Regions from separate parts of the Homo sapiens genome. Here region 2 is linked to region 1. The links come from fine-mapping of genetic effects on gene expression. A gene starts in region 1. The other region holds a variant in brackets. All regions are shown on one strand. Distances are from middle to middle. Region 1 holds the start of HPRT1 (hypoxanthine phosphoribosyltransferase 1). Region 2 has its middle 9.7 kb from the start of MIR450B.

Region 1 (2,804 bases):
TTATTCTCATTTTTTAGATGAAGAGACTGAGGTCCAGAGAAGCTCAATGACTTGCCTAGTTTTACAAATCTCCTGCCATCACATACCCCTCAGCGTCCTTAATAAGAGGGAGGCCACCAACTATGTGCTGGGCACTGTGGTGGATGCTGGAGCTATAGGGTTGAGTATATAAGAAATGGTGTTGCTGGAGCAACTGTTGCTTGCTTACCTGACCTATCTGAGAATTAATTAGCAGGGGAACATATTTTTGTTTTCAGATTCAATATAAGAACTTGTGTGGGCAAAAATAAAGATCAGTAGTAATAACAGTAGTTCCCATTTGCTGACTGTACTGTCCTAAGTGCATATATATATACATACACACACGCATACCTATACTCCTCTAATACTCAAAATGATCCTGTTTATGTATTGTTAATATGCTCATTTTATTTTTAAATTTTTATTTATTTTTATTTTTATTTATTTTTGAGACGGAGTCTCATTCTGTCGCGGAGGCTGAAGTGCAGTGGTGCGATCTCAGCTCAGTGCGACCTCCGCCTCCCGGGTTCAAGTGATTCTCCTGCCTCAGCCTCCGGACTAGCTGGGATTACAGGCGCCCGCCTCCACGCCCAGCTAATTTTTGTATTTTTAGTAGAGATGGGGTTTCGCCATGTTGGCCAGGCTGGTCTCGTACTCCTGACCTTGAGTGATCCACCTGCCTCGGCCTCCCAAAGTGCTGGGATTACAGGCATGAGCCACCGCGCCGGGCTAATATGCTCATTTTAGTGAGGCAAAAATAGAGGCTCAGAGTCTGATTTGTACAAAACTACAGAGCAGTTAAGTGTCCTCTCAGATGTGTACCCTGATCTGGGTGACTCTAGGACTCTAGGTCTCAACTGTTACAACCAGTTAAGGGTTTGGGGAAGCACTGGGCCAAGAGTCAGGAAAATGGAAGCCACAGGTAGTGCAAGGTCTTGGGAATGGGACGTCTGGTCCAAGGATTCACGCGATGACTGGAACCCGAAGAGCCGGGGCCCGGTTTACGGCCGCCATGAAGCAACGCGCGCCGGTAGGTTTGGGAATCAGGGAGCCCTCTGAATAGGAGACTGAGTTGGGAGGGAAAGGGGCTTCGCTGGGGGAGCCTCGGCTTCTTCTGGGAGAAAATTCCCACGGCTACCTAGTGAGCCTGCAAACTGGTAGGCGCCGGCGTAGGCGCGCGGGCGGGGCCGGGGGCGGGGCCTGCGGGGCGTGGCGGGGCGGGCAGAGGGCGGGGCCTGCTTCTCCTCAGCTTCAGGCGGCTGCGACGAGCCCTCAGGCGAACCTCTCGGCTTTCCCGCGCGGCGCCGCCTCTTGCTGCGCCTCCGCCTCCTCCTCTGCTCCGCCACCGGCTTCCTCCTCCTGAGCAGTCAGCCCGCGCGCCGGCCGGCTCCGTTATGGCGACCCGCAGCCCTGGCGTCGTGGTGAGCAGCTCGGCCTGCCGGCCCTGGCCGGTTCAGGCCCACGCGGCAGGTGGCGGCCGGGCCCTGAGGCGCGGGATCCGCAGTGCGGGCTCGGGCGGCCGGGCCCAGGGAACCCCGCAGGCGGGGGCGGCCAGTTTCCCGGGTTCGGCTTTACGTCACGCGAGGGCGGCAGGGAGGACGGAATGGCGGGGTTTGGGGTGGGTCCCTCCTCGGGGGAGCCCTGGGAAAAGAGGACTGCGTGTGGGAAGAGAAGGTGGAAATGGCGTTTTGGTTGACATGTGCCGCCTGCGAGCGTGCTGCGGGGAGGGGCCGAGGGCAGATTCGGGAATGATGGCGCGGGGTGGGGGCGTGGGGGCTTTCTCGGGAGAGGCCCTTCCCTGGAAGTTTGGGGTGCGATGGTGAGGTTCTCGGGGCACCTCTGGAGGGGCCTCGGCACGGAAAGCGACCACCTGGGAGGGCGTGTGGGGACCAGGTTTTGCCTTTAGTTTTGCACACACTGTAGTTCATCTTTATGGAGATGCTCATGGCCTCATTGAAGCCCCACTACAGCTCTGGTAGCGGTAACCATGCGTATTTGACACACGAAGGAACTAGGGAAAAGGCATTAGGTCATTTCAAGCCGAAATTCACATGTGCTAGAATCCAGATTCCATGCTGACCGATGCCCCAGGATATAGAAAATGAGAATCTGGTCCTTACCTTCAAGAACATTCTTAACCGTAATCAGCCTCTGGTATCTTAGCTCCACCCTCACTGGTTTTTTCTTGTTTGTTGAACCGGCCAAGCTGCTGGCCTCCCTCCTCAACCGTTCTGATCATGCTTGCTAAAATAGTCAAAACCCCGGCCAGTTAAATATGCTTTAGCCTGCTTTATTATGATTATTTTTGTTGTTTTGGCAATGACCTGGTTACCTGTTGTTTCTCCCACTAAAACTTTTTAAGGGCAGGAATCACCGCCGTAACTCTAGCACTTAGCACAGTACTTGGCTTGTAAGAGGTCCTCGATGATGGTTTGTTGAATGAATACATTAAATAATTAACCACTTGAACCCTAAGAAAGAAGCGATTCTATTTCATATTAGGCATTGTAATGACTTAAGGTAAAGAGCAGTGCTATTAACGGAGTCTAACTGGGAATCCAGCTTGTTTGGGCTATTTACTAGTTGTGTGGCTGTGGGCAACTTACTTCACCTCTCTGGGCTTAAGTCATTTTATGTATATCTGAGGTGCTGGCTACCTCTTGGAGTTATTGAGAGGATTATAAGACAGTCTATGTGAATCAGCAACCCTTGCATGGCCCCTGGCGGGGAACAGTAATAATAGCCATCATCATGTTTACTTACATAGTCCTAATTAGTCTTCA
Region 2 (2,804 bases), 70 kb after region 1:
GAGACTTAATGCTCCCTCAAGGGCAAACGCTGTGCTGCCTGCATGAGGTCAGGCTGATCTTGTAGAAGACAGTGCACTTCAGCAGCTGAAATCGGTGGGGCTCAAGGGGAAGGGACAAGAGGTACTAGAGACATCTGCTACGGAGAGTAAAAGCCAGCCTACTCCTCAGGGCAATAAGGTGGTTTCCAGGGAGCTCAATGGGGAAGGGCAGCAGGGGTGGGGATGGTGGGGTTGTCATGCGTTTAGACTTTTACTAATTGTCCCGGTTTTCATTTGACACGTCATTCCCATCCTCAGCTGTGTTAACTGTGACTAGGATCGGGTGTTCTAGAATTCATACTAGTCCCACCCACTCTGCATATTGATGGCCTTCTCAGCCCACTTGGGCCAAGATTTGGCCATGCCAGGCTGCCCTCCACATGTACGCCCGCCCTCTGAACCCTGCTTGGGCTCTGAAACAATGCTCCAGGCCACCCCATGGCATGGATACCCTATATGCCCCACCCACACTCTGACACTCTATGCCAGGCTGCCCCCGACCACATGGGTGAGCTACTGACACCTCAGGATCTGACATCAAACACTAGCCCACCCTCCTTCCCCGGTTTGAGCTCTGACACCCCAGGCCAGGCTACCCATTGGCAGTAGTGTCCTCAGCTGGCTTGGCCTTTGACAGCCACACTGGGCCCCACCCCTGACATGGCTGGCCTCACCTCGCTCACCATGCCGACCCCCAGTGGGTGCCTTTCCCCCACACACACACCCTTTTTTTTGAGACGGAGTTTCACTCTTGTCACCCAGGCTGGAGTGCAGTGGCGCAATCTTGGCTCACTGCAACCTCCACCTCTCAGATTCAAGCGATTCTCCTGCCTTAGCCTCCAGAGTAGCTGGGATTACAGGCGTGCACCACAACGCCCAGCTAATTTTTGTATTTTTAGTAGAGACGGGGTTTTGCTATGTTGGCCAGGCTGGTCTCAAACTCCTGACCTCATCAGGTGATCCACCTGCCTCGGAGTGCTGGGATTACAGGCATGAGCCATTGCTCCCGGCCGCCTTCTCCTTTTATCTCAGGTTTGGAAACCTGCAGGAGGCCACCCCACACCCCTGGCAAACACCCTCCTTACTCCACTTGGGCTCTGGCTTTGCATGCCGAGCGGCCCCTGTGTAGATGCCCTCATGACCCGGCTCATGTCTGACACCGTCTTGCCAGGCTGCCTCTTCAGGGAGATGCTGACTCCCTAGCTCCGCCTCTGACTCTCCAGGACAAGCTGGTCCCCACGTGGACATCCTACTGGCTGCACTTGGACTCTGAGTCCCTCTGCCTGGCTGCCTC[C/T]GGCATGGATGTCTTCCTCACTCTGCTTGGGTTCTAGACCTCACATCAGGCTGCCCCTCCACACGGATGCCCTCTCCTCCCTGCTCAGACTCAGATAGTCCCCAGTAGACCATCCTGTGTGGATGCCCTATACACCCTGCTTGCAGACACCATTCTTGACCTTCTAGGGTCCTGTTTTTTTGAGATAGGATCTCGCTCTGTCGCCCAGGCTGGAGTGGAGTGGTGCCATCAAGGCTCACTGCAACGACCTCCCTGGCTCAAACGATCCTCCTACCTCAGCCTCCCAAGTAGCTGGGACCACAGGTGCAAGCCACCATGCCCAGCTTATTTATTTATTTTTGTTTAATTTATTTATATTTGTTTGCAGAGATGAGGTCTCATTATGTTGCCCAGGCTGACCTTCTAGGTTCTAACACCTGTGCCAGGCTAGCCCCATGCGTGGACGCCCTCCTCAGGCTCTGTATGCCACACTGGGTGGCCCCTCCACACGGATGATCTCTTCACCCTTCCTGGGCTCTTACTCCCTGCTCCAGGTCATCCCCCTGTAAGGCCATCATCTTCAACCCACTCAAGCACAGACTCCCGTGATGAGCAGACTCTCCCGACCCCCATGCACTTCGACTCCCTCCTCTTGGTTTTGTTTTGTTTGTTTGTTTGTTTTTTAGATGGAGTCTCACTCTGTTGCCCAGGCAGGAGTGCAGTGGCACGATCTCAGCTCACTGCAACCTCTGCCTCCCAGGTTCAAGCAATTCCCTTGCCTCAGCCTCCTGAGTAGCTGGGATTACAGGCGCCTGCCACCATACTCAGCTAATTTTTTTTATTTTTAGTAGAGATGGGGTTTCCCCATGTTGCCCAGGCTGGTCTTGAACGCCTGACCTAAGCAATCTGCCACCTTGGCCTCTCAAAGTGCTGGGATTACAGGCGTGAGCCACTGTGTCCAGCCATTTATTATTTTTATATAAGTATTTTAAAAATATTTAATATTTTAATTTAAATATTTAATTTCTTAAATTAATTATTTAAATTAATTGACCCTTCCAACATATATTTATTTTTCCCCATTTCTTCTTACTGTGGTTATATTTATATGGCATACAATTGACCATTTTAACCATTTTTAAGTATACAGTTCCCTGACATTAAGCACATTAACATTGTTGTGCAACCAGCACCACCATCCATCTCCAGAACCTTCCCATCATCCCAAATTAAAATTCTATACATATTAAACACTAACTCTATTCTCCCTCCTACCCCAGCCCCTGGCAAGAACCACTCTACTTTCTGTCTCTATGAGTTGTGCTACTCATATGGGGACATAACTCTTATAAGTTGAATCATGCGATATTTGTCCTTTTGGTTCTGGATTATTTTACTTAGCATAATGTCCTCAAGGTTCATCCACCTTGTAGCATGTCTCAGTTTCCTTCCTTTCCAAGGCTGAATAATATTCCATTGTATGGATATTTGG

What was found. PIP is the estimated chance that this variant, and not a neighbour inherited with it, causes the effect.
Region 2: its variant is the best candidate, but not a certain one, in a credible set for the expression of HPRT1 in blood mononuclear cells (TOPMed, PIP 0.69).

The regions. Positions count from the first base shown.
Region 1 is chrX:134,458,897-134,461,700 of GRCh38, forward strand. It overlaps HPRT1 (hypoxanthine phosphoribosyltransferase 1), which reads left to right and starts at 1,269. Exons shown (of 9, transcript NM_000194.3): 1 at 1,269-1,442. The coding sequence starts at 1,416. RefSeq lists silencers at 1,141-1,260, 1,361-1,540.
Region 2 is chrX:134,529,149-134,531,952 of GRCh38, forward strand. No RefSeq gene overlaps it. Among named protein-coding and RNA genes, the nearest start is that of MIR450B, 9.7 kb to the right of the region's middle. RefSeq lists a silencer at 1-75. The variant C/T (reference allele first, on the strand shown) is at 1,334.